7 linked regions of the Homo sapiens genome follow. The protein of the gene in region 1 interacts with the protein of each later gene in a pairwise test. Each region holds a gene or a part of one and is shown in the gene's direction. Other genes may lie near its edges. The genes, in order: NMI, SOX10, GCSH, CNOT7, POMZP3, ERN1 and MTMR6.

Evidence for each region.
Region 2: the proteins of NMI (region 1) and SOX10 interact in a two-hybrid assay, tested with the Homo sapiens proteins (one study listed by BioGRID).
Region 3: the proteins of NMI (region 1) and GCSH interact in binary tests that used the Homo sapiens proteins (3 or more experiments, as listed by UniProt).
Region 4: the proteins of NMI (region 1) and CNOT7 interact in a two-hybrid assay, tested with the Homo sapiens proteins (one large-scale study listed by BioGRID).
Region 5: the proteins of NMI (region 1) and POMZP3 interact in a two-hybrid assay, tested with the Homo sapiens proteins (2 studies listed by BioGRID and IntAct).
Region 6: the proteins of NMI (region 1) and ERN1 interact in a protein complementation assay, tested with the Homo sapiens proteins (one study listed by BioGRID).
Region 7: the proteins of NMI (region 1) and MTMR6 interact in binary tests that used the Homo sapiens proteins (3 or more experiments, as listed by UniProt).

What each region holds. Positions count from the first base shown.
Region 1 is NC_000002.12:151,275,628-151,279,836, reverse strand, and holds part of NMI (N-myc-interactor), read left to right. Parts: intron 1-846; coding exon 847-1,009; intron 1,010-3,972; coding exon 3,973-4,079; intron 4,080-4,166; coding exon 4,167-4,209. UniProt on the Homo sapiens protein: Acts as a signaling pathway regulator involved in innate immune system response.
Region 2 is NC_000022.11:37,978,056-37,982,264, reverse strand, and holds part of SOX10 (transcription factor SOX-10), read left to right. Parts: intron 1-4,129; coding exon 4,130-4,209. UniProt on the Homo sapiens protein: Transcription factor that plays a central role in developing and mature glia.
Region 3 is NC_000016.10:81,083,357-81,086,540, reverse strand, and holds part of GCSH (glycine cleavage system H protein, mitochondrial precursor), read left to right. Parts: intron 1-1,946; coding exon 1,947-2,078; intron 2,079-3,184. UniProt on the Homo sapiens protein: The glycine cleavage system catalyzes the degradation of glycine. The H protein (GCSH) shuttles the methylamine group of glycine from the P protein (GLDC) to the T protein (GCST).
Region 4 is NC_000008.11:17,239,803-17,244,011, reverse strand, and holds part of CNOT7 (CCR4-NOT transcription complex subunit 7), read left to right. Parts: intron 1-389; exon of another isoform or gene 390-570; intron 571-826; coding exon 827-1,020; intron 1,021-4,209. UniProt on the Homo sapiens protein: Has 3'-5' poly(A) exoribonuclease activity for synthetic poly(A) RNA substrate. Its function seems to be partially redundant with that of CNOT8.
Region 5 is NC_000007.14:76,610,037-76,614,245, reverse strand, and holds part of POMZP3 (POM121 and ZP3 fusion protein), read left to right. Parts: intron 1-2,432; coding exon 2,433-2,524; intron 2,525-2,654; coding exon 2,655-2,781; 3' UTR 2,782-2,792; intron 2,793-4,030; coding exon of another isoform or gene 4,031-4,033; 3' UTR 4,034-4,209.
Region 6 is NC_000017.11:64,122,936-64,127,144, reverse strand, and holds part of ERN1 (serine/threonine-protein kinase/endoribonuclease IRE1 precursor), read left to right. Parts: intron 1-4,209. UniProt on the Homo sapiens protein: Serine/threonine-protein kinase and endoribonuclease that acts as a key sensor for the endoplasmic reticulum unfolded protein response (UPR).
Region 7 is NC_000013.11:25,252,793-25,257,001, reverse strand, and holds part of MTMR6 (phosphatidylinositol-3,5-bisphosphate 3-phosphatase MTMR6), read left to right. Parts: intron 1-1,929; coding exon of another isoform or gene 1,930-1,980; exon of another isoform or gene 1,981-2,553; intron 2,554-2,567; coding exon 2,568-2,617; intron 2,618-3,037; coding exon 3,038-3,238; intron 3,239-4,209. UniProt on the Homo sapiens protein: Lipid phosphatase that specifically dephosphorylates the D-3 position of phosphatidylinositol 3-phosphate and phosphatidylinositol 3,5-bisphosphate, generating phosphatidylinositol and phosphatidylinositol 5-phosphate.

The sequences.
Region 1 (4,209 bases):
GGGCAGGTGTTGGGGAAGGTGGAATTTTTAAATTTGATAAATTTAACATCATCTAATTCTGGGCCAGGTGTGGTGGCTCACGCCTGTAATCCCAGCGCTTTGGGAGACCAAGGCAGGCAGATCATGAGGTCAAGAGACCATCCTGGCCAACGTGGTGAAACCCTGTCTTTGCTAAAAATACAAAATACAGAAATTAGCTCGGTGTGGTAGCGCATGCCTGTAGTTCCAGCTACGCGGGAGACTGAGGCAGGAGAATTGTTTGAACCCGGGAGGTGGAGGTTGCAGTGAGCCGAGATCACACCACTGTACTCCAGCCTGGCAACAGAGTGAGACTCTGTCTCAAAATAAATAAATAAATAAATAAAATTATCTAATTCTAGAGTCTTTCTTTTTGGATGAAATTATCTGGATTTGAAATACCATATTATACCCAACACTATATTTCATACTTTGCAGCAAAATTAAACATACTATCTAATGATTTCCTTTTGAGATAGTCTATTATTGGCACTTGTTTAAAAAGTCCTTATTCACATGAATGATGTAGGCTTTAGAACTGAACACCATACAATATTGACAGTTTAAACATTGATTAGAAAAAAGTGAGAGGATTATATATTTTTAATTTCATCTGTGAAATGATATTAAAAGATCAGCATTTGATTACTGAGTACTTACATGGGAAAAAGCAATTACTAAAAATGTTAAATAAGACCATACTCAATATTCTACAAGGTTCTAAAATTAGTGGGGAATGAATTATTGGATGACCAAATTACATTATCATTGGAAGGACTTAAGTTATTTCTCGTCTTGATTTTAATCAAACATTTTCATTTGGATTAGATTAAAGAGGATATTCCTGAAACAAAGATGAAATTCTTATCAGTTGAAACTCCTGAGAATGACAGCCAGTTGTCAAATATCTCCTGTTCGTTTCAAGTGAGCTCGAAAGTTCCTTATGAGATACAAAAAGGACAAGCACTTATCACCTTTGAAAAAGAAGAAGGTATGACTAATGTTAAAAAATATGACCATGTTATTTGGAAAGCACTTTCATAGACATTTAGCTATTACTTCGCTAATATTACTTCACTTATATTATTTCTTATCCTCATAGTGACGTTCTGAGGCAGGTATGATTATTCCCATTTTACAGATGAGAAAACTGACTCTGAGACAAGTGCCTTGAATATGATCTTGTATTCAGAAAGCCATGACTGTGGGACTTAATCCAGGTGCTATGATGATGTCCAATACCAGCCTCTTTCTACTCCACATGCTACCTCCAAATAATGATAGTAATATTTCAAGGTAGTAGAGCTGTACAGTTCTCAGAGACATTATCACATTTTATACTCACACAATTCCATAAATATAGGAGGATAGGATAGTTATTATTGTGTACTTTAAATATAGACATGCCAGAGCCAAGAAAACAGATTCTGAGGATGTTTAAGTGATTTACCTAAGGGAACATAGCCAACGAATGAGAAGAGCCTGGGAGCTAGAGATTTGGAATGAAACCTAATGTTTGCTAAGTCTGCCATGGTGAGGGCCCCTGTTCAGAGCTGGGGGTTCCTGAGTGGGGAGGATCTGGCTTTGAGTGCCAGCCTTGTCCCTTCCTAGAAGCATGATTTGGGATAGGTTCTTTATAAACCTCAGGGTTTTATACAGGTGCTTCATGGTAGTACCTACTTCATGAGGCTGCTTTGAGTATTAAATGAGAAATGTTGATAAAATACTTAGCACAATGTTGGACACTTAATACAAACTTAATGGATGTTAGTTTTTGCTACATGTTAGAAATTTTTCAGATAAGGATACAGAAGCTTAAAGAAGATAATTAACTTGCTTAAAGTCTATACGGTTAGTTGCAGAGCTTAGAGCCAAACCCTGAGAGTCCATGTACTTCCACTGGGCCAATATTTCTCTCGGTAGGCCACCAGCCCAGGCCTTTGTTCTTTTATTTAAGTTATGTGGTGAGGGACCAGATGGTGTTCCCAGCCCTTCCAGTGCTCATATTCTGACAGTCTATAACCCATGTTTCCTCAAAACTGGTGCACCACTGTAGCCTGAAAATAAATGTTGAAAGGCATTCCAGCAGGACAGTATCTGTGCGTAGAAGACATGCATCGCCAGTGTGTTTTCCTTCACCCTGGAGCTACTGCTACAGGTAGAAGAGGAGTCCAGGACTCATACTGGCGACTGGTAATCGGGATATAACTAAAAGATAGATATAAATGAGGATTTGGGAGGCAGGATTTCTGCACAGCAATTTCCTGGGAATGTTGGAAATGGAATTCTCTAAAAGCACCTACATCATTGCTTCTACGCTTGACGTGGCTCTGAGCTCCCAATCTCCTGGGACAGCAGTAGGTTTGAAACACAATTAAGTAGGAGTTGGCTCTTGATTGTCAGAGTCACAACAATTGAGACACAAGCGGTCCCTCTCAGCTGTATCAGATCACCAGATGTTGGGGGTTTGTGGAAGAGTGGGAGGGAAAGAGGATCATCTGAGTATTACTCATTGATATTTTCTGTTATTGTCTGTTGTCATTAGCAAAAAAACACAAAAACACAAAAAAACAAAAAACCATCATCCAAGTTATAGAGTCATATTTTGGTACAGTGAGTTGAATTCCCACATGGCCAAGGCCCTGCCTTCTGGCCCTTTTTTCTCTTCCTCCAGCTGTGGTGTGGTGCCATCTGGTCTGGTTGTCATAAACACATGTGAAGTTTTATAAGACAGAGAGTGAATGTCACTTATTTTCATGATACATTGGAATAGCAGCCCCAAATATCAACAACTGCAGTATTATAAACTCATGCCACACAATTAAAAATAAATGCCCACTCACATTTTTAATTGACATAGAGTTGCCTTTTGGAGTGCTAGTGATTTTTAGCATTTTACTAAACCTCTCCCATTTGCACAGGTAAATTAGACTTGACAGCTTTGTGATCAATATAGCAGGACTATCAACTTTTTAAAGAATGATTTCAAGAGCATTTTTGCAAAAGTGGAATTCGTCATTAAGTATGACCAAAAAAAAGACTCACTCTTTGATGTTCCAGCCTATGTAGTCTTTAACATGTAATCCTTGAGAAGACAGAGCAAATGAATATATATTGCTCTAGTGCTTGTAACATATTAAGGAGTAACAAATGATAAGGTTAAGTAAAATCAAGACTAATTGTACAAATGACACTTAGCCATGAAAGTTTTCCCAGCTTACTGAACATGGGACACTTTCTGGCTGTGCATTAATGTACTAGGGGAATCCTCTGGTAATTGTTAATAGTGGAAGGAAGGGTATGTGGCTGAGCTGAAGTAATATATGAATTCTGGAAGATTGTTAGGCTTATCTCTTAAGAGATAAGAGAAAAGATTCATCTTATGAGAAGAATCTAGAACTTGAGAACTTCTACATTGTGATTTTGCTGATATACTTTGACATTAATATATTCTACTTTGGGACCAAGAGCAGTGGCTCATCCTGATAATACCAGAACTTTGTCTGGGAGTCCGATGCAGGAGGATTGCTTGAGTCCAGGAGTTCCAGAGCAGCCTGGGTAACAAAGTGAGAGCTCGTCTCTACAAAAAGTTAAAAAAATTAGCTAGGCGTGGTGGCATGCACCTGTAATCATAGCTATTCTGGAAGCTGAGGTGGGAGGATCTCTTGAGCCCAGGAGTTTGAGGTTACAGTGAGCTATGATCACATCACTGCATTCCAGCTTCAGTGACAGAATGAGATCTGGTCCTCCTTCCCCCTGACCCCCCAAATTATATATTCTACTTTGGTAGCAAGACCATTATCACTTGGAATCACCGCCCGCCAAATTTTTAAAATTAGACCCTTTAATATTAAAGAAAATTAAAAATATTCAGGATAATTTGTTCTTAAACCAAAAGCATAACAATTCTTAAAATATTGGAAATTAATACTTCCTTCCTGAATTATTTTTCAGTTGCTCAAAATGTGGTAAGCATGAGTAAACATCATGTACAGATAAAAGATGTAAATCTGGAGGTTACGGCCAAGCCAGTTCCATTAAATTCAGGAGTCAGATTCCAGGTAACAGGATGATTAAAATTTTTTGGATTTCTGTTCATCACAAGCACTTCTCTCATCCATATTTCTGAACATCAAATCATTTTCCAGGTTTATGTAGAAGTTTCTAAAATGAAAATCAATGTTACTGAAA
Region 2 (4,209 bases), on another chromosome or scaffold:
TAGAAGTTGGTAGCAGAGCCAGGGCCAGAACCCAGGACTCCCATACTCTCTGTCCAGAGGACTTCCCCTGACCCTGGTGACAGTGGTGGATCACCTACACTTTGAGGAGTGGTCAGGAGGTTGGGGGGAAGCAAGAAGATGAGAACAAGAGTGAGGAGCATCTGGGTTCCAGAAAATTAGGGCTTTGTCAGAGGAGCCCGGCTCTCTTCCGCTGCCCTCCCCCTTGCCAGCCACAGTTGGGTAGAGATTGGGTCTAGAGGCTTAGAGTGGTAGAAGGTGCAGGAGGATCTCCAAGAGACCAAAAGATTCACATCCCGCCCCCTGGCCTGTTCTTGCCATGTGTTTGCTGAAGACCTGGTGCCCCTTCCCCTGCCCCTTCTCAGCCCTCAGTGCCCTGCTCACCCAGGGCAGGCCCAGGGCTCAGCGACCAGCCCGCTGTGTGGACCCAGACAGCCCAGTTCTGCCCAAGAGCAGAGGTCACAGCTAGCTCCTCCACCCAAGGTCCATCCAGATCTGGGTGGGGCTTGGCCCAGGCCAGTATCTTTAGTGCCAGGGGACAAAGAGCAAGTGAGAAACAGACAACCAGGAGAGACATACAGATAGGGCAGACTCTGGGGACCATGAGAAGACCACAGTACGAGCCCAACGAGAGTCAAAGCAAGGACGGACCTCATTTTCCCTCCATCTCCCATTGCCAAGGGTTTAAGATTGGCTCCTCCATTGTCCCTGTCCCCAGGTTCCCCCAGCCCAGAACCCTGGGCTTGGACTCCCTTCAGGAGGACTTATTCTTGGCCATCACTCAAGCTGTGTGCACAGGGGCCAGCCTGAGGTGTGGCAGTCAGGAAAACTGGCACTACTTGCTGAGGACCCAATCCCAATGGGAGGATGGGGCCAGAACCATGGCAAGGATCAAAGGCAATGCCAACAGAGGGTGGCTCCCTGGACCCTGGAGGGGGGTCCTGAGAGACATTTGGATTTGGGCTGGGCTGGCCAATTGCTCCAGGGGCTTCTCCTGAAACCTCCCCAAGCTGTGACTCCTGGGATGTCAAGAAGTGGGGTGGTTAGGTAGGCAGAGCTGGAAAACAGGTGTCTTAAAACCAAAAAGAGAAAGATACACACAGACTGTGTGGAGTGCCCCAAGGGAGTGTGGGATCAGACACACTGGAGCCCAGGTCCTAAGGGGCCGTGTCAGCCCCAACAGTCATTCTAACCTTTGATGCCCATCTGGGGAGGGGCTAGTTGAGGCTGATCACAGGGTGGTGCCTGTGGGTTGGCTGATCTGCCTGGAAAGAACCAGAGCCAAGAAACTGGAAAGGCGGACACAGGCAAGAGTCCCTCCTGTGTGGTGGGGGTCACCCAGCCTCTGTTCCCAGTGCCACAGGCCCCTTCCCCAAGTAGTCTTCTTATGCCCCTGGCCTAGCAGGACACAGGTAGCAGCAATCAGTGCCCCACTGTGGGAGGTCCCCGGTTGGGGTTTCCAGTTTGGGTGAGGAATCAGCCTACCTCTTCTTGCCCCCATTCCAAACCTGGGAGACCAGGGAGAAAGAGGGCTGACAGGAAGGTGCAGATGAGGACTGGGTTTGGAGTTAGAGCTGGAGGCGAAGTTGGGGGTTTGGGGCTGGTAATGTTGAGTGGGGACTGGTGCTGGAGATTGGGTTTACATGGTGGGCAGGCTGGGCTTGGGGTTGGGGTGGAGGTGGAATCAGCTGTCCGGCACAGCTGGTGGAGGAGGGAGCTGGGGTCGGGGATGGCAGTGGCCCCAGGCTTAGATTTCTGTCAGGGTTAGGCTAATGCTGGGAACTAGCTTAGGAGGTAGCAGCGGAATCCGATGTTGGAATCCTCTCTCTCTTCTGGCCCCTGTCACTTTCTTGCTGATGCTGGCTGCCAGCTGGGCAGGGGGCAAGGGAAGGATAGGTGAAAGAGTGAGCTCTGTGTCCCATGTCCCCAGCCATCCCAGAAGCCCCTCTGTTGGGGTCCACTGCTGGCGGAGCAGCTCTCTCCTCTGTGGGTTCTCCCCAGTCACACCCTCAAGGCCTGCTCCACCCCCTCCCCTGGTCCCAGCCGTCAGAGAGGGTGCCCACATCCCACTCCCTGACTCTCAAGGCCCTGCTCCGGCATCTTTGTCCTAAGTGTGTACACTGACTCTGACAGAGTCTCGGCTGGAGGGACCCTCTGAGAAAGCTGGGGCTAGGGCTGGGCTCAGGGCCGGGGTGGGGGGAGTAGACAGGGAGGCTAAGCCGCAGAGGAATGCTGCTGCCGGCTAGGAGGTGCCTGGCATGACCACCCCCGCCCAGCCTGGGGAGGGAGGGCTCGGCCTTCTGCTGACTGGGGGAAGAGGGCACTCACTGGGGTGTGAGGGGTGGGGCAGCTGAAGAGACAAGCCCTCTGGACTGACAGACAAGGCTGCTCCCACAAAGACTCATGGATTCTCAGTACCAAGGTCTGGGATTCTAGAATCTGGACTTTCCCCTCGACCCCCTCTGTAAGGTACCCCATCCTGCCCTCCTCACCCTGGGGCAGCCAAACCCTAAATGCCCTCCACCCTCCAACCCTGGCCTAAGGCTGGAGTCGGTGGCAAGGGCGCTGGCTTCAGGGCTTCTTCTCTCCATGTGTTGGTTTCAGGGACTGTTCCAGGGTCTGAGGAGAGGCTAGCTTCCTCTACTCTCTGCTATTTTCTGGACAAGGATATAGGATCCCCCACAGGAGGCAGTACCCCCCACCCAGACCCATGGTAAAGAGGAGCCACATCTGCCCCCTCAGTCCCACCACACTGGAATTCACACAATCAGGACCCAGAGTTAAGAGTCCAACCCTAGATCCTCCTGTCCAACCACCCCCGCAAGCAGCATTAGAAAAGCACCTCTTGGGGCCGGGCACGGTGGCTCATGCCTATAATCTCAGCACTTTGGGAGGCCAAGGCGGGTGGATCACCTGAGGTCAGGAGTTGGAGACCAGCCTGGCCAATATGGTGAAACCTCGTCTCTACTAAAAATACAAAAATTAGCCAGGCATGGTGGTGCGTGCCTGTAGTCCCAGCTACCCGGGAGGCTGAGGCAGGAGAATCGCTTGAACTCAGGAAGCCGAGATTGCAGTGAGCTGAGACCGCATCACGGCACTCCAGCCTGGGCGACAGAGTGAGACTCTGTCTCTAAATAAATAAAAAATTAAAAATAGAAAAGTACCTCTTGGGCTGGGCACAATGGCTCATGCCTGTAATCCCAGCACTTTGGAAGGCCAAGGCAGGCGGATCAACTAAGGTCAGGAGTTGGAGACCAGCCTGGTCAACATGGTGAAACCCCATCTCTACTAAAAATACAAAAATTAACCGGGCGTGGTGGCGCATGCTTGTAATCCCAGCTACTTGGGAGGCTGAGGCACAAGAATCACTTGAACCTGGGAGGCAGAGGTTGCAGTGAGCTGAGATCATACCACTGAGCTCTAGCATGGGTGACAGAGTGAGATTCCCTCACAGAAAAAAAAAAGAAAGAAAGAAAAGCACCTCTTCCTCAAGGTGCTCAGCCCGCTTCCCAGGCCCTGGTGCAAGGCATCTCACATCCATTATTCTGGCCAATCCCACACCCAAGTTAAGCCAATGTTATCATCCTTTTATAGGTGAAGAAACTCAGGCTCAGAGAAGTAATTTGCTCAAGGTCACACACACAGCTAGTAAGTAGCAGAGACTGAGTTCTCCCCCAGCCATGCTGCTTCTATTGCCCACCCTCAGTCCCAGGGAGCTCACCCCCACTGAAGTAGCCAATTCCACTTGCAGACAGCTTTGATGATGAGAAAGTTTTTCCTTTCCTTGAACTGGCATCTGCCCCTTGAAACCTCTACTCCTACTTCTAACTCCTCCTCAGGGGCTGCCAGGAGCAGCGGGCTGACCCCTCTCTCACCCTCCAGCCCATGAAAGATTTGGGGGCAGCCCTCTGAGGCTGTTATTCCTTGGGCCTCACATCTCTCAGTCCACAAATCATAGGGCACAGCCCCCACCCCGGGTCCTGTCCTCTGGGTGCCCCATCCCAGGGCCTCACATCTTCCAAGATGGACACTCAGAGGGAGGCCAACCTGGAGTGCTCTGGCATTCACGCCAGCCCCTCTGCTGTCCTCTCCGCCTCCCACCACACCCCAGGCTGCTGAACGAAAGTGACAAGCGCCCCTTCATCGAGGAGGCTGAGCGGCTCCGTATGCAGCACAAGAAAGACCACCCGG
Region 3 (3,184 bases), on another chromosome or scaffold:
CTGTTGCCCAGGCTGGAATGCGATGGTGCGACATTGGCTCACTGCAACCTCCGCCTCCTAGGTTCAAGCAATTCTCCTTTTTCAGCCACCCAAGTAGCTGGGAGTACAGGCATGCACAACCACACCAGGCTAATTTTTTAAATTAATTAATTTATTTATTTCGAGGTTTTGGTAGAGGCGGGGTTTCACCATGTTGGCCAGGCTGGTCTTGAACTCGTGACCTCAAGTGATCTACCCGCCTTGGCTTCCCAAAGTGTTGGGATTACAAGCATGAGCCGCCGTTCCTGGCCAGTAGTTCAGAGTTCATAATTGTGTTTTTTTTGTTTTTTTTTTTTTTTTTTTTTTTTTTTTTTTTTTTTTTTTTTTTTTTTTTTTTTTGAGACGGAGTCTCGCTCTGTCGCCCAGGCCGGACTGCGGACTGCAGTGGCGCAATCTCGGCTCACTGCAAGCTCCGCTTCCCGGGTTCACGCCATTCTCCTGCCTCAGCCTCCCGAGTAGCTGGGACTACAGGCGCCCGCCACCGCGCCCGGCTAATTTTTTGTATTTTTAGTAGAGACGGGGTTTCACCTTGTTAGCCAGGATGGTCTCGATCTCCTGACCTCATGATCCACCCGCCTCGGCCTCCCAAAGTGCTGGGATTACAGGCGTGAGCCACCGCGCCCGGCCGTTTTTTTTGTTTTTGAGACGGAGTCTCACACTGTCACCAAGGCTGGACTGCAATGGCATGGTCTCGGCTCACTGCAACCTCCACCTCCCGGGTTCAAGTGATTCTCCTGCCTCAGTCTCCCAAGTAGCTGGGATTATAGGCGCCCACCACCACGCCCGGCTAATTTTTTTGTATTTTAGTAGAGACCATGTTGGCTAGGCTGGTTTCAAACTACTGACCTCAGGTGATCTTCCTGCCTTGGTCTTCCAAAGTGCTGGAATTACAGGCATGAGCCACCACGCCTGGCCCAGAGCTTATAATTGTTATCTGATACAGGGTACTTCACTGTCACTGGAACATTCTAAAGTTTTCATTTTGTTTTTTTCTGAGCCACAGCTAAGTTGCAAGAACATGGAGTTTTACTGAACCTACACACATCTGGCATTCAGGCACATCACCATTTGTTATTTACTGTGTCCAGGACACACAGATAGGTCCACTTTATTGAGACAATATATACCCTTCTCGTGGTTATTATAGCCTGACAAAACTTATGGTTTTATTTTTAATTAAAGAAATGTAGGCCAGGCACGGTGGCTCACGGTTATAATCCCAGCACTTTGGGAGGCTGAGGCGGGTTGATCACGAGGTCAGGAGTTCAAGACCAGCTTGGCCAACACAGTGAAACGCTGTCTCTACTAAAAATACAAAAATTAGCTGGGCGTGGTGGTGCGCGCCTGTAATCCTAGCTACTTGGGAGGCTGAGGCAGGAGAATGGCTTGAACCCGGGAGGCAGAGGTGGCAGTGAGCCTAGAACACACCATTGTACTGTAGCCTGGTGACAGAGCGAGACTCCGTCTCAAAAAAAAAAAAAAAAAAGAGCCAGGTGCAGTGGCTTATGCCTATAATCCCAGCACTTTGGGAGGCCGAGGCGGGCGGATCACGGCATCAGGAGATTGAGACCATCCTAGCTAACACAGTGAAACCCCGTCTCTACTACAAATACAAAAAATTAGACGGGCGTGGTGGCAGGTGGGCGCCTGTAGTCCCAGCTACTCGGGAGGCTGAGGCAGGAGAATGGCATGAACCCTTGGGAGGTGGAGCTTGCAGTGACGTGAGATTGCGCCACTGCACTCCAGCCTGGGCAACAGAGCGAGACTCCATCTCAAAAAAAAAAAAAAAAGAAATTTGGAATTTTAAAATCATAGCTGTATGACAGGAATCTACTTTTTCGTATTTTATGTTTTCAAGTAACTGACTTTTAACATTTCATGTTTTCTTTAATTTTTTTTCCACTTAGATGAGTTTGGTGCTTTGGAAAGTGTGAAAGCTGCTAGTGAACTCTATTCTCCTTTATCAGGAGAAGTAACTGAAATTAATGAAGCTCTTGCAGAAAATCCAGGACTTGTAAACAAATCTTGTTATGAAGATGGTAAGCTGTTGCTAGAAATTTCTCAAGGAATTACTACTACAGTAAATATTTTATCTAGAATTTAAAGCAAGTTTAGCTGATTGTGACTTCATCTTTTTCTACTTCTTGGTACTAAATAGAGATGTTCTGCTTTAAAAGAAAAACAGAGGTTAGTTGAATACTTAAAGTTATGTTTAAGATTTCTGGCTAGGCGCAGTGGCTCGCGCCTGTGATCCCAGCACTTTGGGAGGCCAAGGTGGGTGGATTGCTTTAGTCCAGGAGTTGGAGACCAGCCTGGGCAACATGGTGAAACTCTGTCTCTATAGAAATACAAAAATTAGCTGGCTGTGGTGGAATGTGCCTGTAGTCTCAGTTACTAGGGAGGCTGAGGTGGGAGAATTGCTTGAACCTGGGAGGTCAAGGCTGCAGTCTATAGTGAGCCAAGATCGCACCACTCCACTCCAGCCTGAGTGACAGAGCGAGACCTTCTCAAAAAAAGAAAAAAAAATCTCTGATGATAAAAGCATTACCTTATTTTGCAGTTTCTTGATATCAGTTGTAGATTCTTTGGTTTTGGTGTAAACATCTGCAAAGTATTTACTTTTTCAGACATAAAGCAGCCACTCATATTGTGTGACATGGGAGGTAAAAAAATATATATTTTGCATTAATTTTTGGTTTTCTCACATTTTCACCCTTATAATCTAATCAGGTAAGCTAACAGCAATTTTCTCTATTTTGTAGATGAATAGAGGCTCCAAAGGATTTATCTGTCAGGGTCTCATGGCTGATAAATGGCAAAGCTAGGATTAGGTTGTAGTTCTCTTTTGTCTGTCACCTAGCCCTTCTAATTACTACTGCTTTCTAATCCCGTTAACCTCAGTAGTTAGTGTTCCATTTGTTAAAGACATACCTGGTCTTGTGTATTTGGATCATATATTTAAGGACTTATTTTTATTATTTTTTTGAGACAGAGTCTCCCTCTGTCGCCCAGGCTGGAGTGCAGTGGCGTGATCTCGGTGCACTGCAACCTCCCCTTCTCGGGTTCAAGCACTTCTTCTGCCTCAGCTTCCCAGTAGCTGGGATCAAGGGCAACTGCCACCACGCCCAGCTAATTTTTGTGGTTT
Region 4 (4,209 bases), on another chromosome or scaffold:
TAGTTTTTATTCTTAGCTAGCCCTAGTTTGAATTCTAATACTAAACCGATGTATCTTTGTCTCAGTATTTTTAATAAAAATAAACAAATGCATTACTTTGGGGAGGAGCAAGTTGATTGGTTAAAATATGACTGTTTCTTTGTAGATGACATACTATTTGATAAAGGTGTACTTACCCATGATTAGAACTAAAATTGTTTTCTTAACCAATGGAAATTCATAGTGATCATTGATTTCTCAGATGATAAAGAGTGGCAACATAGAGAAGTGATAACATCCTACAAGAGTGAGTAGGTGGCATGCAATTCTTGACAGCATGCTTTCTGTGGACTATAGAGAGAATATTGTTTAAGCCAGAGAAATTAGGAAGCTAATGATGTTTTTCTTAGGGTTTTGGTGTTGAGAAAAACCTTGTGTCAGAGAAGCAATTGGAAAGTACAGGGCGTTTTCCCCTCTTTTGAACCAGTTCTTCAAGAAACTTGGTTTTAGCATTGGAATACTGTGAGCATCATTTCATGTATCCTTTGGGAGACAGGAATTTATGATTTTCCCCCCTTTCTTGGTTATAGAGTAAGTATTTGGTTAAATTTATCACATGTATCTCGTATAGTAACTTTTTGGATATATTTAAGGAAAGGTTATTAAGTTTATAGAGTTTTATGGTTCTAAAAAGTGATGTTCTTTCTAGTTAAAATATACTTTGTAATTGAATATAAATGTGTAGAATATCATCTGTAGGATTCTTTGATTTGCATCAAAAATTAAAAATGTGTGGATTGTAGTTTTGACTGTTTAGTACATAATGAATCTTAAAACTATTTTACAGGACACCGAGTTTCCAGGTGTGGTTGCAAGACCCATTGGAGAATTCAGGAGCAATGCTGACTATCAATACCAACTATTGCGGTGTAATGTAGACTTGTTAAAGATAATTCAGCTAGGACTGACATTTATGAATGAGCAAGGAGAATACCCTCCAGGAACTTCAACTTGGCAGTTTAATTTTAAATTTAATTTGACGTAAGTGGGAAATAACTGTATAACCCAGACTTTTTTTTTTTTTTCTTTAATCTTAGGAATTGATTTTCCTCAAGTATGGTGACATGCTAGGTGAATTTGGTGTAGTTATCCTGGAAATATATAAAACGTAACATTTCAAAAGCGTGGTTTTCTTTTTTACTATGGGACCAAAAAAAATACTTTGATGTTAAAGATGTTATATTTAAAATATGACTGCAGCTTTTTTTGTATTTGGAAGACTGGGTATTGAAAGTACTTCTGATAGAAAAAATAATCCTACATTAGTTTTACTTTCAAAAATTTTGTGTGCAATTTGAAATATAGCCTTTTATAATATTTATCCTTCTTGTGAAGATTTTTGTTGCATTCATATTCCAGTTTATGAGTAGATTACATGTCAAATGCAGTAAGACGTTTTCTGGAACCTTGGGTACGTTTTCCTTTCAAGTCAGTATTATCATTAGGTTGCCACTTCAGCCCACAAAAGCTCTCTTAATTTACATATAGGAGAAGTAGTAGTATCCTTGAACCTGGTGTTTATCATATGTCAGAATCTTCATTCTAACTCAAGCCCTGGGTCTTCACCCAGTTTCCTTAGTTATAATATTTCTGTATTATTAATAGAAGTAGTCTTGATAGCTAAGGGAAGTTTTAGATGTTTTTAGAGAGGGGCAGATTATTTGCAAACTAAGTTGGGTAAATAAAATAATACATTCTTATTACAGCAGGACCTCAAATGACATTTTCTTCAACATTGTTTCATGGTAACCTTCATAAAAAATAAAATTGATTCCTGACCCGGGCCACTACCTGAGTGGAGTGTGCACGTTCTCGTGTATATGTGGATTTTCTCCCGGGTCCTCTGATTTCCTCCCACATCCCAAGGCTGTGCACGTTAGGTGAAATGGTGTGGCTAAGTTGTCCCAGTGTGAGTGAGTAGGTGTATCTGTGTGAGTGCACTGTGCCACGGAACGACATGCTGACCAGGGTTGGTTCCCACATTGTGCCCTGAGCTGCCAGAATAGGCTCTGGCTTTCTTCACCCCTCAACTGAATAATGGAGCAAATAATTATCTTGTTTTTATTAATTGTTCTTAAATTTACATATAGCTCACATTTATTTCATTGTTTAATATTAGAAGTATTTTGGTCTTTATCTAGAAGTTTGATGATTTTTTTGTGACCAGAAATATGCCGTAGGAACTTAACTCTTGTTTTTATCAATTAGCCTGTGGTAAAAATTGGTTTCGTTATCCATCTTTTGGCTTAAAGTTGCAATTTCCAAGAACTTATTGATAACGTTGAGTGAGTACTTAACTGTATGTTGCAATATTGCATTGTTCTTCTGTTTGACATCCTACATTTGTGTCATACATCCTAATATCTGGTAGGTAAAATAGTGAAAGAAACTGTAGGCAATTAATGGTAGTGCCAATGTATGAATTCTTTCTTCCTGTTCTTTGTCAGATAAACAAAGATATTTAGTATACACAATTTTACGAAAGTAGGGCTTAGGAAAAGCAGAGTAATGATGCCTGTGGTATAGTAGTGTGGCTTGTAATTACACTGTGTTTAGCCTGACTCTCCATTTCACTCTTTTGGGTTTAATAATATACTCTCCATTTGGAGACCAAGGCAGGAGGATTGCTTGAGGCCAGGAGTTCTAGACCAGCCTGGTCAACATAGACTCTGTCTCTACAAAAAAAAAAAAAAAAAATGAAACTAAGCCAGGCATGGTGGCTGTGTACCTGTAGTCCTAGCACTACAGGTACAGGTACAGGTAGCTAGCACTACAGGTACAGGGAGGCTGAACCAAGTGGATTGCTTTAACTGAGGTGTTCAAGGCTATAGTGATCTAGATTGCACCACTGCACTCCAGCCTGGGCAACAGAGTGATACTTTGTCTCTAAAAATACCTGTATCTATACACACACGCACAGTCTACAGAACCTTGTAAAGTAAACTTGTCCAACCCTTGGCCCAGGATGGCTTTGAATGCAGCCCAACAGAAATTCGTAAACTTTCTTAAAACATTATGAGATTTTTTTGTTGTTGTTTAAGTTAGTTTATTTAATGTGTGGCCCAAGACAGTTCTTTGAGTATGGCCCAAGGAAGCCAAAAGATTGAACACCTCATTTATAAAGGGTGCAAAGTACTCCACTCAAACTGAAAACCTTTTATAAGAACTACATCTGTGAAACACTGAAAATTGCCTCCTATCCTTTTTCTCAAATGATAAACCTTTATTAAAATTAGTGCTTTACCATTTCATTTGTTCCATGTTAACTTTTTGTTCAAGTGAATTAGAACATTGTTTTTAAATTAGATACTATTGTGATCTCAGTACGTGAGAAGGAGGTAACCCATCAGCTTCTCAGTTTGGATAAAATTGACAGTTTCCTTTTCTAGAAACACCTTTGTTCGAGTAACAACTGCTTTCTTAGTACAGCCTGTAAGTGACATTTTTTCTTTCTTACTCAAAAATGACTGCTAAAGTTTACTACCAAGTTTTGCTACCATTTACACTAGGGGTGTCTAATCTTTTGGTTTCCCTGGGCCACACTAGAGGAAGAATTGTCTTGGGCCACACATAAAATACACTAATGCTAACAATAGCTGTTGAGCTAAAAAAAAAAAAAATCTCAAAATGTTTTAAGAAAGTTGACAAATTTGTATTGGGCTACATTCACAGCCATGCCGGGCCACATGTGGCCCACTGGCTGCAGGTTGGACAAGCTTGATTTACACTGATGTTAGGAGATGTTTAAGGAGAAGGATACAGTGAAAAACATTAGGTAGAAGAAGTCATTTGGAAGATAAACGAGTAATGCCTAATATAGAGAGAGCACCGTGAAGAGAATCTTGGAAATTTGGAAGAAAGATCAAAATTGACTTTTTAATGGGGTGGCTAGAATGAGTGTCAGTTACAGTGCTAGACACTAGGGATTTAGTACTGAGGAAAGTTGGTCGTGGTCTTTATAACTCAGTGTTTTGTAACTCTTCTGTTTTCTCTCTATTGCCTAAGTCTAAGAATTACAATTGTAACGTATGGGAATTCTCTCCAAACTGAATTTGGAGTTGATACATCCATGAAAATTGAAGTGGAGTACTGATGAGCTGTGAAGAAGAGAAGCATTCTGTGGAAATAATGTCACTGATAAAGAGGATTAAAACAAATTTTTAACAAATT
Region 5 (4,209 bases), on another chromosome or scaffold:
CCGCTATAGGGGAACTGCCCTGGGATCTTAGACTCCAGTTAGCACCAGAAAAACATACTAGGAAGAAGCTAAGGATGAAAGTACATTTCCTTTGTGGAATAGACAACAGGGCCTTGGAAGCTTCTTACTTGCAGGGCAGGTGGCTAAGATGGGCAGCTGGACAACTGCTAAACTGGCTTGTTTCTAAAAGTCTGAATTTACATGGTTTCAAGTTTCTCTGCTGGTGTACTCGGCCACTAGGTGGTGACTGAGGCTTGTGGCTCTGAGGCTTCTGCTGCAAGGTGGCAGAATTGCCATGCTCTGCCCGAGGTTGAGCAGGGAGGAATTTTAGCCCTGCCTGAAATATGAAGGGAAACTGACCTGGGGACGGGCCAAGGCTAGACTGAGCCCTGGCTCTGTCAGAATGGCCCCTAGCCCCAGCAGCAGGATGGAATGTCAGTCTAAAATGAGAAGGCTTGGCCAGGTACGGTGGCTCATGCCAATAATCCCAGCACTTTGTGAGGCCAAGGCAGGTGGATCACTTGAGGCCAGGAGTTCAAGACAAGCCTGGCCAACATGGGGAAACCCCATCTCTACTACAAATACAAAAACTAGCCTGGTGTGGTGGTGGGTACCCATAATCCCATCTACTTGGGAGGCTGAGGCAAGAGAATCGCTTAAACCTCGGAGGTAGTGGCTACAGTGTACTCCAGCCTGGACTAGAGACAGACTCCGTCTCAGAAAAAAAAAAAAAAAAAAGGGTAGGGGGGCAGTGCTTACAGGGTAGTTGACTATTCCCTGGGTGGGGGGGGTCCTTCAGCTCCCAGCAGGAGCTCATATTGGGTTCATTCCCTCGTACTTGTCTAACGAGGGTGGGTAAACGTTTCCCAGAGGCCAGGACTGTCAGGGTATCAGCCTGGTGAGTCTTCTGGTCGTCATATCCCTTACAGGTGAAGGGAGACTGACGTAGGCTTGACTAATAGCAGAGGTATGTGCAAGGAAGAAAAGCCCAGGGAAGCTTGCCCAAAGAGTGAGCCATCAAACTCAAGTCTGGCCGGGCGCAGTGGCTCACGCCTGTAATCCCAGCACTTTGGGAGGCCAAGGCAGGTGGATCACAAGGTCAGGAGTTCAAGACCAGCCTGGCCAAGATGGTGAAACCCTGTCTCTACTAAAAATACAAAAAAATTAGCGAGGCATTATGGCAAGTGCCTGTAATCCCAGCTACTTGGGAGGCTGAGGCAGGAGAATTGCTTGAACCTAGGAGGCAGAGGTTGCAGTGAGCTGAGATCGTGCCATTGCACTCCAGCCTAGGCAACAGCAAGACTCCACCTCAAAAAAAAAAAACAAAAAAAAAACCTCTTAAGTCTGAAATGGAAACTCCACAGAAGCAAGTCCAAAAGGCTTCTTTATGTGCCCAAGGACCTCAGGTCCCAGAAACAACTTGGTCTTGCCTTAGCTGGCAATACAGTGACTACATCCCTGAAGAAAAGTAGCTTGTCAACTAGTCAAGTGGCAGGTGGCAGCGTCAGAAACCCAGCTAAGCTGCTAGCTATTAAGGTGTCTACCACTCACCTCGGTCACCTGGGGATGGGCGCGGGTTTAGCAATGCTGAGTTAAGCCCAGGACTGGCCAGGCACGGATAGCTGGCACCTGTAATCCCAGTACTTTGGGAGGCTGAGGCGGACAGATCACTTGAGCCCAGGAGTTTGAGGCCAGCTTGGGCAACATGGCAAAACCTCATCTCTGCAAAAAATCCAAAATTAGCCAGGTGTAGTGGCTTGTACCCGTAATTCCAGCTGCTCATGAGGCTGAGGTGGGAGGATCCCTTGAGCCCAGGAGGTCAAGGCTATAGTGAGGCATCATCATACCACTGTACTCCAGCCTGGGTGACAGGCCCTGTCTCAGAAGCCCAGGGTCAAGCATGTTCAATGATTGGGTAAGTTTGGAAAAGATCAGGGGAATAAGTGGTGGATTCCAGTCTAAAACTAGTTGCTACTTGCTCTAACATTGGGTAAGTGAACCTTTACACCATCTTAGAGATGAGGCTCTTCCTTCCCCCTGTTTATTTTATGAGACAGTCTCACTCTGTCAGCCAGGCTGGGGTGCAGTGGCATGATCTCGGCTCACTGCAACTTCTGCCTCCCAGGTTCCAGTGATTCTCCTGCCTCAGCCTTCCAGGTAGCTGGGACTACAGGTACCCACCACCACGCCCAGCTAACTTTGTATTTTTAGTAGCGATGGGGTTTCACCATGTTGGCCAGGTTGGTCTCGAACTCCTGACCTCAGGTGATATACCCGCCTTGGCCTCCCAAAGTGCTGGGATTATAGGTGTGTGCCATCGCACCCGGCCCCTTCTCACTCTTTAAAGGGTTGAGGGTTATAAGAGAACTGGTGTGTTAAACTCCCAGGCACAGCCTGGAACTCGGCCTGGAAATAGCTGTTATTCCTTGCAGATATACATCACCTGCCACCTGAAGGTCACCCTAGCTGAGCAGGACCCAGATGAACTCAACAAGGCCTGTTCCTTCAGCAAGCCTTCCAACAGGTGAGGACAGGTGCTCCGTGACTGGAGTAGAAACTGAATCGGCGACCCCTTGTCTATTTCCCCCAATATATTATCAGCAAACTGCTTCCTGCAGGCAACAAAAATCTAAGCTGCTTCTCTTTCATCTCAGCTGGTTCCCAGTGGAAGGCCTGGCTGACATCTGTCAATGCTGTAACAAAGGTGACTGTGGCACTCCAAGCCATTCCAGGAGGCAGCCTCGTGTCGTGAGCCAGTGGTCCACGTCTGCTTCCCTGTAACCGCAGGCATGGTATGTCATAGAATGGCCAAGAGGCTGTTCATTGTCCCTTACTCAGTTGAGGGTACCTGCTGTCATTTCAGGGTGATGGTATTTTCCCTTGTCATCCATTAAAACTGTTTGTACCTAGGCCTGCAGCTACCTTTCCCTAACACAAATCTTGGGGTTAAGCAGGAGGGGGCTCTCAGCCTTCCACCTCGGTGGCAGCCAGGGTAGATCTGCTGTCATCCTAGGCTTCTACTGAGACATAATTAGGCATGTAGGGGAAATATAGCAGTTGTTAAGATAATCTGGCTTGGCATAGTGGCTCAGGCCTGTAATCCCAACACTTTGGGAGGCCAAGGCGGGCAGGTCACCTGAGGTCAGGAGTTCGAGACCAGCCTGACCAACATGGAGAAACCCCATCTCTACTAAAAATAAAAAATTAGCTGGGCGTGGTGGTACATGCCTGTAATCCCAGCTACTTGGGAGGCTGAGGCAGGAGAATCACTTGAATCTGGGAGGCAGAGGTTGCAGTGAGCCGAGATTGCACCATTGTACTCCAGCCTGGGCAACAAGAGTAAAACTGTCTCTCAAAAAAAAAAAATAATAATAATCTGGCCAGAACAGTGGGTTGTGCCTATAATCCTAGCACTTGGGGAGGCTGAGGCCAGGGAAATCGCTTGAGCCCCATGAGTTCTCGACCAGCCTGGGCAACATAGCAAGACCCTGTCTCTACAAAAAAGATGATGTACTAGGGAATCCCTCTTGGGTGACCTGCTTTCTCCGTATGAGAAAGCTGTCTTTTTCTTTTTTCTTCCCCCTCCCCTGCACCAAGATGGTGTCTAGCTCTGTCCTCCAGGCTGGAGAGCAATGGCACGATCTCTGCTCACTGAAACCTCTGCCTCCCAGGTTCAAGCTATTCTCCTGCCTCAGCCTCCCAAGTAGCTGAGACTACAGGCATGTGCCACCATGCCCAGTTAACTTTTTTATTTTCAGTAGAGACGGGTCTTGCCGTGTTGGCCAGGCTGGTCTCAAACACCTGACCTCAGGTGATCTGCCTGCCTCAGCCTCCCAAAAAGTGCTGGGATTACAGGCATAAGCCATCACACCTGGCCGAGAAAGCTGTGTTTTTTTGTCTAGAAACTGTTTATTAGCCCACACAAAAAAGACAACATATTAGTTTAGCCCACTGAGGCAGAATAAAACCTCCAACCCAGTTCCCGGTTAGGGACTAAGATGACCCTTGGTTGTGTGTTCTCCTTTCACAGTGACAGAAGAAGCAGATGTCACCGTGGGGCCACTGATCTTCCTGGACAGGAGGGGTGACCATGAAGTAGAGCAGTGGGCTTTGCCTTCTGACACCTCAGTGGTGCTGCTGGGCGTAGGCCTGGCTGTGGTGGTGTCCCTGACTCTGACTGCTGTTATCCTGGTTCTCACCAGGAGGTGT
Region 6 (4,209 bases), on another chromosome or scaffold:
ACATTGGTATTATTAAGCACTTGAGGCTGTCTTTTGTTAATCCAGAATGTGCTTATTTAGTCAGTGAGTTTTTCCTTTCTTCCTAGACCTATATCTTGCTCCTAGAGTTGGTTAGGGTTACATCATCACTGTCAGCAGTCCTCATTTTATGGTTATTTAGGTGCCACATCTCTCAATTACCAAAGAGATCAGTACAATGTGAGGCAAAGTACCTTTTTTTTTAAAAGCTATAAGATATCAGATTTCTTTCATTTAGCCAATATTTTGGTTTTAGAGGGAGGTTTTTAAAAAGTCACCGAGAACTGAGGATCATGTGTGTATAGAAACACTGTAATCTGATAGATGAGTCTTAACTAGCAATGTCTTTGCTTATCATTTATTCTGACAGTGATCACCTGCATTAATTATCCTAATAGGCGATATCAAGTGTTTATACTGAGGCCATAAGTAGAATGTTCATTGAGTTTGTTATCAGGGCTGCTGATCATGAAATTAAACTGTAGTTGTGCACATGTGTATTGTTTCATTAACTTGCCTGCCTATTCAGCCTTCTGCAGTAATGTAGCTTCTCAGAGCACAGGAGAAAAATGTATCTGAGAGTTATTCGAGAGAGAGTTCAACAATAGCCCATATTTCCGAACATAAATCTAGTGAGCCGCATTAAAGTTTCTTCATGTCTGGATGGAATAGTGTCACTTGCATAGGTCTGAGGGTTTCATTATTTGCCTGCCCCAGATTTGGACTCCGTTTTTCAGGTGAAAGAATCCTTGGATAACTGTTTCATTTTCATAGGAAACCTCTTTGGTTTCGGGATCCAAAGTAATATGTAGGTTCAATATTTTGTAGGTTTTATAATCAAATGTCTCCCTAAAGAGATGACATAGGGAAGAAAAGCCTAATGTATCATCTTAATGGATTCAGTTTTTATTATGCACAAATAACTGGGCTTGTAACCTAGGAATATGATTAGAGCGTGATGCTGGCTTAAAAAATAGGACTGGTGAATCACAGTTTGTGAATAATAAACTACTGGTTGGAAATATTTCCCAGAAGCAGTTTTTTTTTTCCTTTCTATCTTTACCTATATCCCATGTTTGGTTTCAAACTTCCCTGCCTTAGAGCAACACAGCTGGTTTTAGACAGTCTTTCTATCAATATCTTATAATCTTTGCTCATGTACAAACATACAGCAAATACAACGGTATAAAAATACGATGTTATCTATTTTTGTTCACTTTTTCCCCACAGAACATCTTCTGTAACCCGGTAGAAAATGTTCTGAGTACACCATCACATTTGTCACTTTAGTAGCACCTTAGTAAACCATCATCCATGTAAAAAAACATTGAGCTTCTCAGCCGGGCTTGGTGGTTTGCGCCTGTAATCCCAGCACTTTAGGAGGCCAAGGCGGGTGAATCACTTGAGGTCAGGCGTTCGAGAGCAGCCTGGCCAACATGGCAAAACTCCGTCTGTACTAAAAATACAAAAATTAGCTGGGCAAGGTGGCATGCACCTGTAATCCCAGCTACTCGGGAGGCCGAGGCAGGAGAATCGCTTGAACCTGGGAGGTAGAGGTTGCAGTGAGCTGAGATCACACCACTGCACTGCAGCCTTGGCAACAGAGCGAGACTCTGTCTCAAAAAGAAAAACAAAAAACAAAAAACATTGAGCTTCTGTGCCCAGCCGTGGGTTGGGGACTGGGGTTATAACTGATCAGGGTTGATGTGGTAATAAGCCGAGCTTTGCCTGCCAGTCATCTTGCTGTGGCCATAGGGATCATAAAGAAAGGGGTATTTTCATTTTTTCAATTATTTTATGTTTGGTGCTTTCTGTATGATAACAGGGGAAGATATTTTTTTTTGAGGCATTATCTCAAAGTAATCATATTCATTGTAGAAAAGTTAGAAAGGATAGATAAGCCTAAATTAAAAAATAAAAAACAAGCCTTCTATTATCTTATTTTCCAAACATTACCTCTATGAAGATTTTAAACAATTTTATTGAGATATAATTCACCTATCATCACAATTCACCCATTTAAAGTGTACAATTCGGTGGGTTTTAGTATATTGACAGAATTCTGCAGTCATCACCACAGTCCATTTTAGAACATTTTCATCATCCCAGAAATAAACTTCATACCTATTAGCTGTTACACACCGTTTCCCCCCAAACCTCCTAGTCCTTGGCAACCACAAATCTACTTTCTGTCTATAAATTTGCCTATTCTGGACCTCTTATATAAATGGAATCATACATTATGTGGTCTTTTGTAACTGGCCTCTTTAACTTAGCATCATGTTCTCAAGGTTCATCCATGTTGTATAATAACATGTGTCAGTACTTTGTTCCTTTTTATTGCTGAATAATATTCCATTATATGAATATACCACATTTTATTTATCCATTGTATTAGTCCATTTTCATGCTGCTGATAAAGACATACCCGAGACTGGGCAATTTACAAAAGAAGTAGGTTTAATGGACTTACAGTTCCACGTGGCTGGGGAGGCCTCACAATCATGAAAAAAGGTAAGGAGGAGCAAGTCACATCTTACGTTGATGGCAGCAGGGAAAGAGAGAGCTTGTGCAGGGAGCTTCCCATTTTTAATACCATCAAATCTCGTGAGACTTATTCACTATCACAAGAACAGCACGGGAAAGACCCATCCCCATGATTCAGTTGTCTCCCACGGGGTCCCTCCAACAGCACATGGGAATAGTGGGAGCTACAAGATGAGATTTGGGTGGGGACACAGAGCCAAACCATATCATCCATCCATTGAGGGACATTTGGATTGTTTCTGCTTTGGGACTATTAATAATTCTGCCATGAACATTTGTGTACAAATTTTTGCGTGGACATTTATTTTCACTCTTCTTGGGCATATATCTAGGAAAGAGATTGTTGGGTCATATGGTAACTCTTTGTTTAACCTTTCAAGGAACTGTCTGACTGTTTTCCAAGGCAGCTGCACTATTTTACATTCCCACCTGCAATGTAGGAAGGAGGGTTACAGTGTCTCTTATACCCTCACTGATACTCGTTATTACCTATCTTTTTAATCTTAGCCATCCTGGTGGATGTGGAGTGGTAACTCATTATAGCTTTGATTTGCATTTCTCTAATAACTAATCTAATATCTTGACATATGTTCTTTCAGATGCTTTTTCTGTGCACATATTTACAGGTAATACTTTTCTTCCCCACACTGGAACATATAGATCTATGTCAATCAGCTTAATTCTGCAACATTATTCTTAATTGGCTGCGTAGTATTTCTCTGAATGGAATGGATGTACCATAATTTGACCACTCAATCATTTAGATATTGAGGCTGTTTTTATTTTTTTTTATTTTTTCACTACACAGATATGTTTTTATTTTCATTATAAAAATTATAACAATGTAATGAACTTTCTTGTTGCTAAACTCTTGAATGAGTTTTAAGTGCTTAGTTATTTCCTGGAGATAGATTCCTAGAATTGAAATTTGCTGATTGTATGTAGTATTTTACAGCCCTCTCCCCCAGCCCTAAGCAATGTTGAGTGTTTTAAAAACAAAACTAACCTTAAATTGTTTTTATGATAGGCGGTTTAAAGTATGCTATTTTCTTTTATCAGTGGCCACTTTCTTTTAGGAGCGTAGACTTTAAAAGTTGGATGAAAATAGAATGTTTACATTTTGTTTATATTTTGAAGATGTAAATAAACCAAGGCAGTCTCTGGATGATACCCTTTGTACCTAAAAGCTATTGAGAAAATGTTTTATTTGGATTTGTTAAATGACTCATTTGTGGGGTCCTTTAGTTTGCAGTGGTTTCAGATCAACTTTCTAGGAGATGTGGCACCCATGAGCACCCTGAAATACCTCGGGATAATTCTCTGGTTTTGAGGGTGGCCCGCCTCCTACAGATAAGATTCTTTGTATGGTCGGTTGTGAGGCCATTTAAAACTTTTGCCTTAAGACTTCATAAATCAGAGTTGATACATTGATTGTCCCTTTTGGAGGCTGCAGTTCTTAAAACATGTGGCTGTTTTTCCTAGGAATATTTAAGTACCACTTGATAATAAAGTACTACCTTTTGCTGGGATTATCTACCTGGAAAAAAAAAGGGAACAAAAAATTAAAAATAAAATGTAATATCTGTGGTGTTTTATTTTTTGTTTTGTTTTGCTTTTCCTGCAAATTTATTCTTCCAAAAAAAA
Region 7 (4,209 bases), on another chromosome or scaffold:
CAGCAAAGACTGATCTGGCCTGTAATGTCAGTACTGTCGAGGTTGAAAAACCTTGAATTAGACTTATTTCCATTTGTGCTAACACTGACAATAAGCTTTAGATTTAAATAATTTTTTTTCCTAAAATGTTGCAATGGAAATATTCAGTATTTTCTCCCTCATTTTTATCTAACAAATGTAAATAATGTAATAAAACAATGCACAAATAAGAGTACTTAAAATTAAATTCTGAAGGAAACCTTCTATTTAAAACACCTGCATTAGTAAGTGTAATAACATATTAGGCATGTTTTATATCTGAAGATAAAATTTCTAGTTGAATAGATTTTCTCCTTTGTGAAGATAAAGACCTAGTTCCTTTTTTTTGTTTCTTTGCTTTTAAAGGTATGATCAGATTTTTATTTGCTTGCTTTTAAACGTGTGAGCAGATTAACTTATGTTTTCAAAATTTACATCTTAACTCATGGTAAATTAAATGAAGAGATGTTAGAAAATTTTCATTAGTCTTGAATTATTAAATACAGTGCCATCTTAAAGCAAAGGAAGATTTAAAATCACCAGTCCCTTTTCAGCACCGCTATTTTTTGCTGCTAACATACCGACTCTGGGACAGGCCAAGCGGGAGTGCTGCTAATAAGAAAATAATGCTCAGCTTACCTTGAGAGTGTACGATAAGGAATATTTTCTTTGCCATGTTTGGCTTTAATTATTTGTTAGACATCCAAATGAAATCATGTAATAAATGGGGATGATGTGAGAGCTTCCCAGGCAATAGGAACAGTGTAAATCAAAGCATAACCTCTTTGGGTGACTGCAGGTAATGTGTGATGGATGGAGTTCAGAGTGAGTATTAGAATAGGGGGCTTGGAGGCAGAGGAATAGAGTGGGGTCAGGGCCTGAGAAAGAGAAGGCTGGAATGGGGCTTTCCCCTCTTTGGATAATGGGAGCTATTAAAGAGTTTTAAACAAGCAAACAGTAACTTGATTAGATGTGCTTTTTAAAAAGGTGGCTTGGTATCTTGAAGGCCAAAGGGAGTGGGAATGGAGGCTAGGAGGCGAGTGTAGACACTATTATGATAACTTATGAGACAAAAGTTTTTAATTTTACCAAACTAAAATAGTAACACACAAGTGAAGGGGGAGGTGATGGGTTCCAGGGATGTTTAGAGAGTAGAGTCAGTGGCTGGGCGCAGTGGCTCACGCCTGTAATCCCAGCACTTTGGGAGGCCAAGGCGGGTGGATCATGAGGTCAGGAATTCGAGACCAGCCTGGCCAATATGGTGAAACCCTGTCTCTGCTAAAAATACAAAAATTAGCCGGGCATGGTGATGTGTACCTATAATCCCAGCTACTCAGGAGGCTGAGGCAGAAGAATTACTTGAACCCAGGAGGCGGAGGTTGCAGTGAGCCAAGATTGCGCCACTGCACTCCAGCCTGGGCAACAGAGTGAGACCCTGTCTCAAAAAAAAAAGAAAGTAGAGTCAGGAAGAATTGATCATGGATTGGATGTGGGATAGAAGAGAGGAGTCTTCCTCTGGGATGATTTCCAAGTTTCTGAATTAGGTGCCAGGATGGATGGTGCTGCTCTCTGGCTCTTCACTGAGATAAGCCAAAGAATACATTTAGTGAGAAAGATATTGAGTTATGCTTTAAACATGGTTTTGTAGAAGAATGGCAGAGAGACCAGAATAAAATCTGTGGCTCCAGCCACAAGGTCACACAAAGTGGTGAAGCTGGGATTGGAGCCTGTGCCTGAGCTCCAGCGACTACATCCTCAGCCACATCAGTGTATAGCCTTCTGCGGAAAGCAGAGGCTTGAGACAAAATCAGAGAAGCTAAAACCAGCAGTTTTGACACTATGAAAATAATGTGCTTGGTGACTGTATAGTTAAGTGATAAAGTGTACTAAATACTACAAATATGTGTTTAGATTAGACTGAAAAAGTTAGAAATCTGTTTTTACAGTGGAGTGGGTAAGTAGAGAAGCTGTGGCAAGGAAAACATAAAGTCAGTCCATTCAAGAGGATAGATGTTAACACTTGGATCTGAACATGAACTCAAGTAAGATGATTTGATTAAAATAATTGGTCTTTTTATCATTAGTTTTTTTTTCTTAAAAAAAGTAGTATATAAATAATATAAAAAATGTACAAGTAAGCCAAAAGTTTTAAAATATCCACCTCAGTCTACCACCTAGAGTTATCCTTTGTTAGCAGTTTTGGTTTACATTTTTCTAGCCTTTTTCCTATGATATATCATCTTCATACATACAAAAACTTAAATGTAATACTGCTTTATAACATGTACTTTTCACTTAAAATGTAATAAATTCAACGGAAATAATTTAAGTCACGAAACTACTCTATTTCTTTTTATGCATTTTTATTCTTCTTTAACCCCACCTCGAATCAAGGTTTTGGCATTCTTTTGCCTGTGGTTTTTTGTGCTGTTTTGTTTATAAGTTAAAAGTGTACAGTAAATACTGTTTTTAAACTAATAAGATTTAATCCAGCCTAAACAAAATAATTGAAAGTAGTCAGAAAGTGAATTTTACTTTTTCTCATTAAGGTTTTAATAGAAAAGGATTGGATCTCTTTTGGACATAAATTTTCAGAGAGGTGAGTCACAGTTACACAGTCATATATTTTATAAAATTAGTAAACCAAGTTTAGAATGCCAAAATGTTTCTGTTCCTTATGAACTCACATGCGTGATGGGAGGTAAGAGTGTCATGGTTTTTACTGTATTTTACGTAAAGACATTTAATTTTTTTCTGTAATTTCTTTCAATTCTAGTACGCTTGTTAATTTTCATGACTATTTATTACCTTCCTTTTGGGCTGCATTTTATTTAGAGATGGTAACAGATCCTTTAAAGCTGTGGTTTAAAAACTCATAAATGGTTTCAATAAAAATTCTAGTTTTGCATGCTAATGTAACAGTGCTTTAGGAATATTTTTGTATGTTTAAGATTAACAATACCTGAACAATGGACCTTTCAGAGGTGTTTTTAAAAGCTTATACTTTCTGTGGGGTTAGGTGTGGCCAGTTGGATGGTGACCCAAAGGAAGTCTCACCAGTGTTTACTCAGTTCTTGGAATGTGTGTGGCATTTGACCGAACAGTTTCCACAAGCCTTTGAATTCAGTGAAGCATTTCTTCTTCAGATCCATGAGCATATTCATTCATGCCAGTTTGGAAACTTCCTTGGAAATTGTCAGAAGGAAAGAGAAGAGCTCAAGTAAGATGATTCAATTAAAAGAGTCTCCTTTTCCCCCTACTTAGCCGAGGTCTAACAAAAATCATGTTTGAAACTTAATAAAATATCTTGACAATTTGAAAGTTTATTGTAAAGATTTTATTTTTTGTATTTCTAAAGCTGAGTACCCTTCTAATATTCCCCCACCTTTCAGCTAATAGTAAAAGCACATTATAAAATGTGTTTTGAAGTGTAGCATACATACAGAAAAGTACATAGAGCGTTAAGTGTGAAGCTCAGTAAATCTTACCAAACTCACACACCTATGTAACCAGCACCCAGAATATGAAATGTTGTCAACACCCTGGAAAGTCTCCTCATGCTTCTTTTCGGTCTGCATTTATATATTTTAGAACAGAGAAATCCTTATGCTGTTTAATTTCCCAGAATGTATCAGTCGCTAGTTTTAAAGTGTAAAATATTTTAAACTGTTGGTTTGTTTTAAGATAGGATGGAGCCTTATAGCTCTCCCCACATTTCTAAACAGACAGTTCTTTGGGGAAAATAAATCTAGCTATGTTGGCTGCAGCGTGTCCGTCCTTGAGTAGGGTCTCAGAAAAGCCCTGAGACACTACTTGACCCTAGTTCATGTTATTTCCTGACCAGTCTTCGGGGATAGGGGTTTTTGCCTAAATTTTGCTGTAAGGAAGATCTCTGGAGTAGGTCTTAGAGGTCCTATGTATATTGTTTTAGGTTGGGCTTCTGAGTTTGGATTTCTTTATTGCCTCTTACAGTAGGCAATAAAGAGCACTTAACAGACTTTTGAACATCCAAGGGACATATTAAGGAAGCTAAATCTGGTAGTATTTGAAGATAGCCACATGCTCACACTCCCAACAGAGTAAACAGCAGAACTGAGAGCATGTGGAAAATTCTAAAAATGCGTAAAGGGAATAAAAAGTGAATAGAGAATGGTGGAGATGAACAATCAAAGAACATTGAGGCTTTAGCTC